Regions from separate parts of the Homo sapiens genome. Here region 1 is linked to region 2. The links come from fine-mapping of genetic effects on gene expression. Tissue or cell type: whole blood. Region 2 holds a variant in brackets; the other region holds the start of a gene. All regions are shown on one strand. Distances are from middle to middle.

Evidence for each region. PIP is the estimated chance that this variant, and not a neighbour inherited with it, causes the effect.
Region 1: ERCC8 starts here. The variant in region 2 is fine-mapped to the expression of ERCC8 in whole blood (INTERVAL, PIP above 0.99).

The regions. Positions count from the first base shown.
Region 1 is chr5:60,941,763-60,949,853 of GRCh38, reverse strand. ERCC8 (ERCC excision repair 8, CSA ubiquitin ligase complex subunit) reads left to right here and starts at 4,784. Exons shown (of 12, transcript NM_000082.4): 1 at 4,784-4,922. The coding sequence starts at 4,846. NDUFAF2 (NADH:ubiquinone oxidoreductase complex assembly factor 2) reads right to left here and starts at 4,649. Exons shown (of 4, transcript NM_174889.5): 1 at 4,472-4,649. The coding sequence starts at 4,598. RefSeq lists an enhancer at 3,884-4,013.
Region 2 is chr5:61,193,598-61,201,705 of GRCh38, reverse strand. All of the region lies in intron 3 of SMIM15-AS1 (SMIM15 antisense RNA 1), which reads right to left. Among named protein-coding and RNA genes, the nearest start is that of SMIM15, 35 kb to the right of the region's middle. The variant T/C (reference allele first, on the strand shown) is at 3,838.

The sequences.
Region 1 (8,091 bases), 250 kb after region 2:
TCATTTATAATAACAATACAATATAATATACTTTATAATAAATTTAACAAAACATATCATGATCTCTATGCTGAAAACTACAAATCAGTGATAAATTTTTAAAAATGACCAAGTAAAAGGTCTCTGTGAATTAAGTCAAACTGATTTCGACATTAAATCCCATTCTCTTAAATGCTACGTTATCCAATTTGTCTCTCTTGAGTAGCAAAAATACTTTGTGAGGCTAAGTAGGTACTGTTATTTCCGTTTTACAGAGTAAGCTGGAGCTGCTATGGCCAAGCACTCACACTCTTAGGTATGTACTCATGGAAAATGAAAACTTATGTTCACACGAAACCCATATGTGAATGTTTCTTGCAGCTGTATTCATAATCACCAAAAACTGCAAGTAACTAAACTCAAATGCCCTTTAATGAGTAAATGAACAAACTGGTACATCCATTAACATGGAATACTAATCAGCAGTAAAAAGGAGCAAACTACTGATATACGTAATGAATCTCAAAGGCATTATGCTGAATAGAAGAAGCCAGGTTCAAAAGGTTACATATGGTATAAGTATACATGTGGGACAGTCTCAAATGGAAAAAAGTATAATGGCAGAGAACAAATCAGTGGTTGCTGAGGTTAGGGATGAGGAGAGATTGTAACTACAAAAAGGTAGCATGAGGGAGTTATTCAGGGTGACGGAACTGTTCTGTATCCTGATTTTGGTGTTGGTTACATGAATCACATGTGTTCAAATTTATAGAACTATACACCAATTTTAAAAGTTAATTTTACTGTATTTTAAAAATAGAATCTAAAAAAACCAACTAATAGCAAACAGAAAACTAAAGAAAAAAAATGAGATACCACAACACACCTACTAGAAGAGCTAAAATTAAAAAGACTGACCATACCAAGTGTTGATAAGGATATAGGACAACTGGAAATCTCATACACTCCTGGTGGGAAGGTAAAACGGTACCACCACTTAGGCAGTTTCTTAAGAAGTTAAACATACACCTAACAAGTTGACTCAGCCATTCCATTTCTAAATATTACATCAAGAGAAATAAAAACATAAGTCCATACAAAGACTTACACATGAATGTTCATAATTTATTTGTAATAACCCCTAACTAGAAACAACCCAAATATCTATGAACAGGTGAATGGATAAACAAATTATGGTATATACATACAATGGAATATTACTCAGCATTAAAAAGAAATAAACTACTGATAAACACAAAAACATGGATGAATCTCAAAATAATTATGCTGAGTGAAGAACCTAAAAAACAAAAAAAAAAAAAAGCAGAATATGTGCTGTATGCTTCCACTTAAATAAAATTCTAGCCAGGCGCACTGTCTCACATCTGTAATCCCAGCACTTTGGGAGGCCGAGGCAGGCAGATCACAAAGCCAGGAGTTCAAGACCAGCCTAACCAACATGGTGAAACCCCGTCTCTACTAAAGATACAAAAAGTTAACTGGGCAGGGTGGCACACATCTCAGTTACTTGGGAGGCTGACGCAGGAGAATCACTTGAACCTGGGAGGCAGAGGTTGCAGTAAGCCGAGATAGCGCCACTGCACTCCAGCCTGGGCGACAGGGCGAGACTCCATCTCAAAATAAACAAATAAAAATAACTAAATAAAAATTATAAAAAATACAAACTAATGTATAGTGTCAGAAATCAGATGAGTGCCTATCCATGGAAGCAGAAGCATAAGGCAAGACTAGAAAGGAGCACAACAAATTGTTGTGGATATTGAATATGTTAATTTTCTTGACTGTGTTGATGGTTTCACAGATATATACATATGTCAAAACTTACCAAATTATACATTTTAAGCATGGGCAATTTTTTTTGTCAATTATACTTCAATAAAACTCTCAAAATGCAATTACAATTATGTAAGAAAATATACAAATTAGTGAGAATATGTAAAAATAAAATATTCATGTTATTGTAGAATAGACATGACTGTTAATTTGAAACTTTAATGGTATTGTATCTCTATATAAATGAATGATACAAAAACTGGTATAAATATATTTGTTTGTTGTTTTTTGGGCTTGTTTTTTTTTTTTTTTTTTGAGGTGGAGTCTCACTCTGTCACCCAGGCTGGAGTGCAGTGGTGTGATCTCGGCTCACTGCAACATCCGCCTCCCAGGTTCAAGTGATTTTCCTGCCTTAGCCTCCCGACTAGCTGGGATTACAGGCGCGTGCCACCATGCCCAGCTAATTTTTGTATTTTTAGTAGAGATGGGGTTTCACCATGTTGGCCAGGCTGGTCTGGAACTCCTGATCTCAGGTGATCCACCCACCTCGGCCTCCCAAAGTGGTGGGATTACAGGCATGAGCCACCGGACCCAGCCATAAATGGATTTTTTAATGGGCAAAAGGTTTGAACAATACTTCACCGAAGATCTGTAGATAGTAAATAAGCACATGAAAAGACTGTCAACATCCTCAGGCATTAGGAAAATGAAACTTAAAATCACAATGAGATACCACTATATACCTATCAAAATGGCTAAAATAAAAATAAAAACACACCCAAAAATCAGATAATACTAAGTGCTGGTGAGGGTGTGGAAACAACTAGAATTTTAATGCATTGCTGGCAGGAATACAAAATGGTACAGCCACTTTGAAAAACAGTTTGGTAGTTTCTCATAAAGTTAAACACACATTGATCACACAACTTAGTAATCCCACTACTAGATATTTACCCAAGAGATATGAAAACTTACGTTCACACAAATCCTGTATGGGAATGTTTGTAGAGCTTTTGTCACAATCACAGAAACTGGAAACATCCTAATGTCCTTCAGCTTGTGAACAGATAAACTGGCAAACCCATACAATGGAATACTACTGAGCAATAAAAAGGAACAACTACTGACACATGGATGAATCTCAGCTACATTATGCTATGTGAAGCAAGCCAGACTCAAAAGTCTAAATCCTGTATAATTCCATTTATATGATATTCTAGAAAAGACAAAACTATAGGCCCATAAAACACATCAGTAGTTGCCAAAGGGTGTGGGAATGAACTACTAAGGAGTTGGAGGAAATTCTGATGGTGATGGAATTATTCTATTACTTGAATCCAGTGAGGTTACTCTACTCATTTGTCAAAAACAATAAAACTGTACACCATAAAGGGTGAATGTTACTGTATGTAAATTATATTTCAATTTAAAAAAACTCAGTCTGACAGTTTGCATATTTTTAATTTTACTGACAACTTATGGAAAAGAAACATCTCTCTGCTTGCAACCTGTCAAGAAATACTTAACACCATGCTATGTTCTTTGCAGGCTTTTTTCTTTTTTTGTGAGACATATTCCCTGCCTGACAGAGGAGCTCATTAGGGAAACAAGTCTAAATATTAAAATAAGTTACAGAAAAAGGCCAGGCAAAAATAAATTAATTGAGTGATAAATCACAGAATACATTTTATATGTGTGGGAAATGAATGGCACATAATCTTGGAAAGGTCTTAGTGCTTCTCAACATTGCTGATCTTATATTATCTCTAACTTTCAAGTGAGGATGTTGAGACTTGGAGAGGACAAGTACTTTTTCCGTGATTCCCGAGCTATCAGGTGTCAAAGCTGAGATTCTAACCCACGCCTCTTCGCCCAAAACCTGACATTTTCTGCATGCGGCGATGGAACAACACAGAAGAGGTTACGACGGCGGCTACACAGTGTGATTTCAATGGACAGCAACGCCTCCTTACTCCCCAAACAACCCGCTCAACTACTTGGCACGAATCCTACACAGTAACACCATGATTATTGCCACGTTTCTTAAATTGAGCTCAACGGGGTCTTGGAATGTCAACTCCCGAGAAAGGAATCAGCGAGCCTTGTGGGGATATGGACCTACTTCTGACAAGTCTTGGTAGTAAGGAAGGCGCATGGGGCCAGCGCCGGAGCCAGGGTGCCACCGAAAAGGGTAAACACCAAGAAAGAAGACAGCCGAGGCGCTGAAGATACTCCTCTTCAATTACACCACTCAGCTCTGGGTCACAAGGCGGGGAACAGCGTACGAAAAACCCCTCCCCTGGCCCTTCTAGCCCCTTTGGTGAAAGATTTCCGTGGACTTTTCCCTGCCTCCGTCGCCAGTCCAGGGCTAAAACTGAGGCTCCTCTACAGGCGTGGCTGGGAGGAAAGTGGTGGTGCGCCTTAACAGCGCAAGCAGCCCGGGGCACGCCGGGGGAAGGCGCTGGGTAGTAGGGACCGCGGACGCACGAGGCCGGGCCAAGGCGCCCAGAGCCGGGCCGGGTAGGGCTCCGATGCCAGAGTGAAGGGGTCGACAGGGGAGAACGAACTCGGGAAATTCTCTCCGGTGACACCCTAAGTGTCGCATGATGCGTTAGTTGACTAGGGGCTCTCACTTTTCCCTCCTTTACTGACCTCGCAATCACTGACCACGCAATCGCTGCCCACGCCGCCACCTCACCTCTCCAGTTCTTGTACTGCGGGATGTAGTAGTATTTGTTCCCGAATTGGTCCGTGCCCACGTGCTCCTTCACTTCCCTTGACAGCGATCTCCACAAGGCGCGGAACAAATCCTGAGACCAACCCATGCCGTCCACCCAGTTTCCAGCGCTGCCAGCAGCGGGACCCGCAGTAGGGGTAATGCTCCAGCCGCCGACCCAGCCCACCGAGGCGGAGAAGTCAGGTCGGCCTCCATCCTGGAGCCCTTCTAGTAACGGCGCTCACCATTGGCCGGATATATCACCGACTGACCAATGGGAGACTCTGCTGTTCCAGTCCCGCCCCTGAGCTCTGTCATGGCGACGTCCAGTGCTCCAGCCGGTGTGAGGACACGATATGCTGGGGTTTTTGTCCGCACGCCAAACGGGTTTGGAGGACCCTCTTCGCCTTCGGAGAGCAGAGTCAACACGGAGGTAAAGAAAACCTTACTTTTTGGCTAACAGGCCAGTTAGAATCTGGACCAATGACTGTAAGCTTTGCCCCACACTTTCCCGTCTCATCGCTCTCCTGCCACCAAACTATTATTTGCCCTCTAATGCTGTGTGGCTTGCTAAAATAGGATCCCTTTTATTTACTGGTAACAACTTGCAGGCGGGGGGCGGCGGGGGTGGGGGGGGTTCCCCGGGGGTGGGGGGGGGGTTCCCCCGCGGGCTCAGGTGAAGACACTATAAACCTAAATAAGAATACTTCGTTGTACTGTATTCCTTCTCTCTTAAGTTACTCCAAAGAATAACTGCCCTCCACGGACTCGTTCATTCATTCAGTCTGCATATTTAGTGAATTCCTACAGTGTGCCAGGCAGCCTATTAAAGGCAGAGGACACAGGCCAGGAATTGAACAAAGTTCAGAATGACTAGAGCGGAGAATTGGGGTAGGGACCATTGACAAGAGATGAAGTAGACAGAAACTAGATGAGGAAGAGCCTTGTGTACTTGAGTAGAGGTGTGAAGATGAGAATAAGGTAACAGCTATTGCATTTTGTTTTCTGCTTGGAGAATGGGTTGCAACTGAGAACAAGAGTGGGAGCCAAGTTAGGTAACTGTTGTGATTACACTTGTCCGGGAGAGAGTTGTTGGAAGCCTGGGCCACAGAGTTGCCAAGTAGAATAAAGATAGTGGAGAGATTTGAACAACGTCTGAGAAATAGAATCAACAGGCCATGGAAATTGAGTGGATACGTGAATGACAAAAAGAGAAGAATGAATAATGATTCCCAGATCTATGCCTTGTATAAGAAGTTGAATGTTGGTAATATACTCTGAGAGAGGGTTTTCCAAAGGGAAGAAGCAAGTTGTACTTTTAATTTTGCCCACATTAATTGAGGAACCTGTGAAGATATTTACTTGGAGAACACAGTTGCTTATGAGTTCTGCGTTCTGGAGAAATTTAAATATTAGTTTCCAACATTTTATCCATTACGTTTTCAATGTTGTGAAATATCTCTGAGAGTTCCTTTAATGTGTTTTTTTTGCCAGTGTCACTTCCTCTGACACATCATCAGCCTTTCATCACAATCACTTTTCCTCATTTATGTCTATAAGTTCACCTTCACTGATTTCCTCAGTCTGCATATCTAGAATGTCTCAAATGGCGGCAGTGTCATTGTTGCCACAATCAGCATGTTCCCACAGGCAGCTTTTTTTTCATTTGCTCCATTTATGTTTAATGCAAGTTTCACTTCTAGTATTATCACTCTTCTTTAGTGCACTTTCATTCTTTTGGCCAATTTCCTCTTTTAATCTGTAAAATTCCATGTGGGTTTATCTCAAGGGCACAGAAATATTAATAACAAACCTCCATGCTTTGCAGCCTGTGTGTGAACTGAATAACAGATGCACAGTGACCAATCACCCATAGACTTTGAAAGAAGTAAAATTGCAAATTGGTCAATTTTGATTCATATGTTATTTATGTAATGATTTGTGAACTGAAAAGCTAGTAGCAAACTTTTATGCTATTTCTCACGGTTAATAAACTGTGGTAACTGAAATTCATATCAGACTGTGCCAAGTGAGGATTGCTTATACGTTTAAGACAAATAAAGTATTTAAAAATTAAAAAAATATTTTTTTTTTGAGGCAGGGTCTTGCTCTGTCACCCAGGCTGGAATGCAGTGGTGCAGTTACAGCTCACTGCAGCCTCGACTTTCCAGGCTCAAATGATCCTCCCATCTCATCCTCCTAAGTAGCTGGGACCACAGACATGTGCCCACACACCTAGCTAATTTTTAAATTTTTCGTAGAGATGGGGTCTCCCTATGTTTCCCATTCTGGTCTTGAACTCCTGGGCTGAAGTGATCCTCCTGCCTTTGCCTCCTAAAGTGCCGGGATTATATGTGCGAGCTACCACACAGCCTAAAATTTTTTTAAAAATATTTCCATCATTAAGTGATGTTTTTGCTTAAACAATTATATAGTTCCATTTTATTCATAGGAGATGTCTACTGTTCTTCCTTGTCATCATGTAAGAGCAAAAGGATGAACACTGATATGCAGTGTTCACAGTTTACACCCTCTAAAAAAACATTTTACAACTTTATTGAGGTATAATTGACATGCAATACCCTGCACATTAAATGAGAATATACAATTTGATGAATTTTGACATATATTTACTTTTGAAACCATTACCATAATCAAGAGAACATCCATAACCCTAAAAAATTTTTGACGGTCATTTATAATCCCTGTCTCCCTTCTTTCTCTGCTTTACCCTCTTCCTTCTCTAGAAACTACTAATCTGCTTTAGGTCACTATAGATTAGTTTGCATATCTAGTATTTTATATAAATGGAATCTTTTTTGTCTGGCTTCTTTCACTCAGCATAATTACATTATTTTGAAATTTCTCCATGTTATTGCATGTATCAATTCCTTTTTTTTGCTGTGGAGTATCCCACTGTGCAGATATACCACAGTTTATCTAGTCACTTGTCGATGGACATCTGAGTTGTTTCCAGTTCAGGACTAATACATTTACAGCTGCTCTGAAAATTCATGTATGAGTCATTGTATGAACATATGCTTTTATTTCTCTGAAGTTAATGCATAACAGTGGAGCTACTAGATAAATCCTTTACTTTTTAAGAAACTGACAGTTTTCCAAAAGCATTTTCCAGTCCCACCACTAATAGGTGAGAGTGCTAGCTGCTCCATATTTATGTTTCCCCTTTCCTGCTTTCATTTGACTGTTTGAACATTATTTAGTATTCTATTTTATATACTATGGTTTTGACTATATCTTTTTGTATAATTCTTTAGTGGCTGCTCTAGGAATTATAAAATACTTACTTTTCGTTGTCTACTTCGGATCATTTCATTGTTTTACTGCTTCATTTGGCATATAGAAACCTTATCACCCTTTCCCCTGCACCATATATATATTGTTGTCTTATATTTTATATTTACATACATTATATACTCTATCAGACATTATAATTTTTTCCAACCATCAATCATATTTTAAGGAAAAAAGTAGCCATTATATTTAACCAGATAGTTATTTCTGTTGCTGTCTCTTTATTCCTGATGCCTCAAATTTCCTTCTTATATCTTTTTCTTGTCTCTGAAGAATATAGTTTATCA
Region 2 (8,108 bases):
GGGTGCATCTGAGATCAATGGCCAAAGAAAATGGGCTCTGAACAGTGCTTCACTGTCACATCCAGGATCTGGAAAGTTGTATTTGAGTGCTGGGTTTGATATACGTTAACTAGAAGATAAAACATGCCGACTATGGCTAGCAGACACAGTGCCCCATCATGCCTGAACAAAAAGATATTTTATACCAGAAGTGCGGAACAGGATTTTTTGCAGTTTTGCTAGAATCCTTGTCACAGTGCTTAATAATGTTACATCATTTAGATAATAATTTTTCTAGTTTTCAGTTTACCTAATAGTACGTGTTCAATTATTTTATGGAGCTTTTTCAATCAGAACAACATCGTACCTGTCTTTTCAGTGTATTATTCCCAAATAAAAGTTTAACCTCTTTTCGGAATCTTAGGACTGTGCACTATAGCCATTAGTTTTATAAAAATCTGTGCTGGGGGAGGGGCCAAGATAGCCAAACAGAAACAGCTGCTGTCAGAGGCTCCCACTGAGAACGAAAATGGCAAGTGAATCCTGTACCAGCAACTGAGGTATCCAGGTTCTTTCACTGGGACTAACTAGGCAGTTGGCGTGACCCACGGAGAGCAAGGAAAAGCAGGGTGGAGTGATGGCCCACTCAGGAGCTGCACAGGGGAAGGGGAGCTCCCAACCCCAGCCAAGAGATGCGGTGAGTGATTGTGCTACACGGCCTGGGAAAACCACACATTTTCCACAGATCTCTGCAACCCACAGATCACGATACCCCCTCTCATGAGCCCACACCACCAGGGCTTTGGTTCCCAGCACAGAGCTGTGCAGGTTCTCAGCGGACATTTCGGCTGGAGGCTGACTAAGACTACCAAGTTCCCAGGGGCTTGGGCGGCTGTCATCACTGCAGCTGCTTGCTGCCTAAGACCAACTGAGCTCCCAGGGGGAAGGGTGGCCATTATCACTGTGGCTTCCTGCTGCCTAAGATGACTGAGCTCCCAGTGGGAGGGGCAGCAGCCACCACTGCAGCTCCAGTCTGCTGGTTTTCCCCTGTGGATGCTGGGGAGATTGGGTGGTTTGGACCCAGGAGGAATTCCCCACAGCACAGCACAGTGGCTGTGGCAGATCATGGCCAGACTGACTCTTTAGGCCAGACCCTTACCCGTCCCTCCTCAACCAGTGGGGCCTCCTTGTGGGAATTTTAGCTACTCAGGCCAGGGGTTTATAGTCAGAACTCACATCTCCCTGGGACAGAGCCTCGTAGGGGAAGGGCAGCCATGGTCTCTGCGGATCAGCAGACTTAGTCTTTCCGCCTGGTGTCTCTGAGGAGTCAGGGCAGTCTGGATGAGTGGGATTTCCCCAGCACAGCACACCCTCTCCACTGAGGAGCAGCTAGAGTGCTTTGTTAAGCGGGTCTCTGATCCCATGTCTCCTGACTGGGTGAGACCCCCACAACAGGATATGCCAGACGCCCTATACAGGGGCATTCCCACTGGCATCAGGGTGGTGCCCCTCTGGGACAGAGCTCCCAGAGGAAGGAGCAGGCAGTCTTCTTTGCTGTTCTGTAGCCTCCACTGGTGACACCTCCAGGTGTGGGAGGGACCCAGGCAAACAGGGTCTGGAGTAGACTCCCAGCAAACTGAAGCAGCCCTACAGAAGAGCATTCTGACTGTTAAAAGAAAAACAAACAGAAAGCAACAAGAGCATCAACAAAAAAGTCCCCACAAGAACCCCACTCAAAGGTCAGGAGCCTCAAAGATCAAAGCTAGATAAACTCAGAAAGATGAGAAAGAATCAACAACAACAACAAAAAATGCTGAAAACTCAAAAGGCCAGAGTGCTTATTCTTCTCCAAGTGATTGCAATACCTCTCTAGCAAGGGCACAGAACTAGGAGGAGGCTGAAATGGATGAATTGACAGAAGTAGGCTTCAGAAGACGTGTAATAATGAACTTTGTTAAGCTAAAGGGGCATATCCTAACCCAATGCAGAGAAGCTGAGAACCATGATAAAACATTACAGAAGCTGTTAACCAGCATAACCAGTTTAGAGTGGAATATAAATGACCTGATGGAGCTGAAAAACCCGACACAAGAACTTCACAATGCAACTGCAAGTATCAGTAGCCAAATAGAACAGGCAGAGGAAAGAATTTCAGAGCTTGAAGACTATCTTACTGAAATAAGACAGCAGACAAGAAAACAATGAAAAGGAATGAACAAAACTTCCGAGAACTATGGGATTATGTAAAAAGACTGAAACTACGACTGATTGGGGTACCTGAAAGAGACAGGGAGAACGAAACCAAGTTGGAAAACATACTTCAGGATATCATTCAGGAGAACTTCCCCAACCTAGCAAGACAGGTTAACATTCAAATTTACAAAATCCAGAGAACCCCATTAAGATACTCCATGGGAAGATCAATCCCAAGACACATAATCATCAGATTTTCCAAGGTTAAAATGAAGAAAAAAAAGCTAAGGGCAGCCAGAGAGAAAGACCGGGCAACCTATAAAGGGAAGCCCATCAGACTAACAGTGGACCTCTCAGCAGAAACCCTACAAGCCAGAAGAGATTGGGGGTCAACATTCAACATTCTTAAAGAAAAGAATTTCCAACCCAGAATTTCATATCTGGCCAAACTAAGTTTCATAAGTGAAGGAGAAATAAAATCCTTTTCAGACAGCCAAATGCTGAGGGAATTTATCACCACCAGGCCTGCCCTGCAAGAGCTCCTGAAGGAAGCACTAAATATGGAAAGGAAAAAACATTACCAGCCACCACAAAAATACACTGAAGTGCAAAGACCAATAGCACTATAAAGGAACTACATTAACAAGTCTGCAAAATAACCAGCTAGAATCATGATGACACAATCAAATTCACAGATAACAATATTAACCTTAAATGTAAATGGGTTAAGTGCCCCAATGAGAAGACACAGAACGGCAAGCTGCATAAACAGTCAAGACCCATTAGTGTGCTGTATTCAAGAGACACATGTGCAAAGACACACATAGGCTCAAAATAAAGGGATAGAGGATAATTTACCAACCAAATGGAAAGCAGATAAAAGCAAGGATTGCAATCTTAGTTTCTGACAAAACAGATTTTAAACCGACAAAGATTGAAAAAGACAAAGAAGGGCATTACATAATGGTAAAGGGTTCAATTCAACAGGAAGAGCTATTTTAAATACATATGCACCCAATAAAGGAGACCCTAGATTCATAAAACAAATTATTAGAGACATACAAAGAGACTTACACTCCCACATGATAATAGTGGGAGACTTTAACACCCCATTATCAACATTAGACAAATTATTGAGATAGAAAATTAACAAAGATATTCAGGTCTTAAACTCAGCCCTGGATCAAGTGGACCTGATAGATATGCACAGAACTCTCCACCCCAAAACAAGAGAATATGCATTCCTCTCAGTGCCACATGTCACGTACTCTAAAATCGATCACATAATTGGAAGTAAAACACTCCTCAGCAAAAGCAAAATAATCTTTTTTTTGATGAACTGAAATCACGACAGTCTCTCAGAACACAGCACAATCAAATTAGAACTCAAGATTAAGAAACTCACTCAAAACCACACAATTACATGGAAATTGAACAACTGCTCCTGAATGACTCCTGGGTAAATAATAAAATTAAAGCAGAAATCAAGAAGTTCTTTGAAACCACTGACAACAAAGAGACAATCCACCAGAATCTCTGGGACATGGCTAAAGCAGTGTTAAGAGGAAAGTTTATAGCACTAAATGCCCACATCAAAGACTAGAAAGATCTCAAATTGACACCCTAACATCACAATTAAAAGAACTAGAGAATCAAGAGCAAACA[T/C]ACCCCAAAGCTAGCAGAAGACAAGAAATAACCAAGATCAGAGTGGCACTGAAGGAGAAAGAGACATGAAAAACCCTTTGAAAAATTAACAAATCCAGGAGCTCTTTTTTGAAAAAATTAATAAAATGGATAGACTGCTAGCTAGACTAATAAAGAAGAAAAGAGAAGAATCAAGTAGACACGATAAAAAATTATAAAGGGGATATCACCACTGACCCCACAGAAATACAAACAATCATCAGAGAATGCTATAAACACCTCTATGTAAATAAACTAGAAAATCTAGAAGAAAGGGAGAAATTCCTGGACATATACACCCTCCCAAGACTGAGCCAGGAAGAAGGTGAATTCTTGAATAGCCCAATAATGAGTTCTGAAGTTCAGGCAGTAATAAATAGCCTACCAACCAAAAAAAGTCCAGGACCAGACAGATTTACAGCTGAGTTCTATCAGAGATACAAAAAGAAGCTGGTACCATTTTTTTCTGAAACTATTCCAAACCACTGAAAACCCATTTTATGAGGCCAGCATGATCCTGATACCAAATCCTGGCAGAGATACAACAAAAAAGAAAACTTCAGGCCAATATCCCTAATGAATATTGATGCAAAAACCCTCAATAAAATACTAGCAAACCAAATCCAGTAGCACATCAAAAAGCTGATCCACCACGATCAAGTCGGCTTCATCCCCAGGATACAAGGCTGGTTCAACATACACAAATCAATAAACATAATTCATCACATAAACAGAACTAAAGACAAAAACCACATGATTATCTCAATAGGCGCAGAAAAGGCCTTTGATAAAATTCAAAATCCCTTCGTGTTAAAAACTCTCAATAAACTAGGTATTGATGGAACATACCTCAAAATAATAAGAGCCATTTATGAGAAACCCACAGCTAATATCATATTGAATGGGCAATAGCTGGAAGCATTCACCTTGAAAACAGCACAAGACAAGGATGGCCTCTCTCACCACTCCTACTCAACATAGTATCGGAAGTTCTAGCCAGGGCAATCAGGCAGGAGAAAGAGATAAAATGTATTCATATAGAAAGAGAGGAAGTCAAACTGTTTGCAGATAACGTGATTCTGTGTCTAGAAAACCCCATCGTCTCAGCCCAAAGATTCTTAAGCTGATAAGCAACTGCAGCGAAGTCTCAGGATACAAAATCAATGTGCAAAAATCACAAGCATTCCTATATGCCAACAACAGACAAGCAGAGAGCCCAAACATGAATGAACTCCCATTCACAATTGCTACAAAGAGAATACAGTTAACAAGGGAAGTGAAGGACCTCTTCAAGGAGAACTACAAACCACTACTCAAGGAAATCAGAGAAGACACAAACAAATCGAAAAACTCATCGATAGGAAAAATCAATATCATGAAAATGGCCTTACTGCCCAAAGTAATTTATAGATTCATTGCTATTCCCATTAAACTACCATTGACATTCTTCACAGAATTAGCAAAAACTACTTTAAAATTCATATGAAACCAAAAAAGAGCCCATATAGCCAAGACACTCCTAAGCAAAAAGAAGAAAGCTGGAAGCATCATGCTACCCAACTTCAAACAAAACAGCACGGTACTGGTACAAAAACAGACACATAGACCAATGGAACAGAATACAGAACTCAGAAATAAGACTGCACATCTACAACCATCTGATCTTTGACAAACCTGACAAAAATGAGCAATAGAGAAAGGATTCCCTATTTAATAAATGGTGCTGGGAGAACTGGCTAGCCACATGCAGAAGCCTGAAACTGAAGCCATTCCTTACACTTTATCCAAACATTAACTCAAAATGAATTAAAGACTTCAATGTAAAACCCTAAATTATAAAAACCCTAGAAGAAAATCTAGGCAATACCACTCAGGAGATAGGCACAGCCAAAGATTTCAGGATGAAAACATCAAAAGCAATTGCAACAAAAGCAAAACTTGACAAATATGATCTAATTAAACTAAAGAGCTTCTGCACAGCAAAAGAAACTATCATCAGACTGAACAGACAACCTGCAGAATGGGAGAAAACTTTTGCAATCTATCCATCTGACAAAGGTCTAATATTCAGAATTTACTTGTAAATTAAACAAATTTATAAGTAAAAAAAACTGCATTAAAAAGTGGGCAAAGGACATGAACAGACATTTCTCAAAGGAAGACATTTATGTATCCCACAAACATGAAAAAAAGCTCAACATCACTGATCATTAGAGAAATGCAAATCAAAACCACAATGAGATACCATCACACACCAGTCAGAATGGCCATTATCAAAAAGTCAAGGAACAACAGATGCTGGTGAGGCTGTGGAGAAACAGGAATGCTTTTACACTGTTGGTGAGAATGTAAATTAGTTCAACCATTGTGGAAGATGGCATGGCAATTCCTCAAAGACCTGGAACCAGAAATACCATTTGACACAGCAATCTCGTCACTGGGTATATACCCAAAGGGATATAAATCATTCTATTGTAAAGATACATGCATGTGTATGTTCACTGCAGCACTAATCACAATAGCAAAGACACGGAATCAATCCAAATGCCTATCAATGATAGACTGGATAAAGAAAATGTGGTACATATACACAATGGAATACTATGCAGCCATAAAACGGAACAAGATCATGTCCTTTGCAGGGACATGGATGGAGTTGGAAGCCATTATGTTCAGCAAACCAACACAGGAACAGAAAACCAAACATCACATGTTCTCACTTATAAGTGGGAGCTGAACAAGGAGAACACATGGACGCAAGGAGGGGAACAACACACACTGGGGCCTGTTGGTGGTGGGGGTGGAGAGCATCAGGATAAATAGTTAATGCATGCAGGGCTTAATACTTAACTAATGGGTTGATAAGTGCAACAAATCACCATGGCACATGTTTATCTATGTAACAAACCTGCATGTCCTGCACATGCATCCTGGAACCTAAAATTAAATTAAATTAAATTCAAATAAAAAAAATTAAAAAATCCATGCAGATGAACCGCACATACTTTCTTCAGCTTTTTTTTTTTAATTGAAAGCAGGCATAGCATACTTTTGCCATGTGAAAAAGAGTAAAGGAATTGGCTGAAAACCAATTGGTTGAAATAATAGATTAATTGATAGGATAAGTTTTAGGCAAAGTATACTCAGATATGAGTTTTCATTATTTTGTACTACATATTTCTTTTATTTTTAGTTAGTTCTGATATTGTTTAAAAATTATTTTTAATTTTTATTTTAACTAAATTTACCGATTTTATAAGCAGTTTAGGGAGTCAAACAACCTTAACAATCTTGTTATAAATAAATATCAACTTATTTTCTCACTCCCAACTCCACCACTGTACCTCCAGGCAACCATTTTGAACCCTGGTAGCAGATTCTCTTTCTTTACGTTTTTACTTCAAATAATGATTATTATATGATTTCTTCACTTTTCCATTTTAGCCATTATCTGCTGATTTCCCAGTATAGAAGATGAAGATTTGCTTATCTTTTGCATCCTGTTCATCCACATAAATACACACTTTTAATTTTAAATTTTGGCTCTATGGACAATTTTAGTTAGATCACCATTCAGTATTCATTCACATTACTTAAATGCTATCCTCACCTGTGCCACATAATATACTATATTTCCTTTCCTGCATAAGTTTTTTCTTTTTATTGAAACTGAGATACACAGATTTGGATTAATTATAATTTATAACATATACTTATCATTGGTTTATGTATGAACTTCTTTTAGTTATAATATTTAACTAAAATATTTAAATAATGTAATTAGCTCCCTTGACCCGACATCTCAGATGAAACCTAGAGACTTGGAAATAACCTTCATCTACCATCTTCTCCTCACACACAGCCTATCTTGTTTTTATCATGTCCTTACTTACCTTTTTTTTTTTTTTTTTTTTAATCACTCTTGCTCAGGCTGGGATTACAGGTGTGAGCCACTGCACCCGGCCCTTACTTTCCTTTTTATATAACTTTATTGCATCTACATATATTCCTACATATAGGGATACACAGAGTTAGTAGATGAAAAGTATGTTTTGGACCTCCCCCAAAAAAGTCATTATATGAAGAAGACATGCACACATATATATAGCAGCACAATTCACCAATTGCAAAAATATGGAGCCAACCTAAATGCCCATCAACCAATGAGTGGTTAAAAAAATGTGGCATATAGGACAGGCACGGTGGCTCATGCCTGTAATCCTAGCACTTTGGGAGGCCAAGGTGGGGGTGTA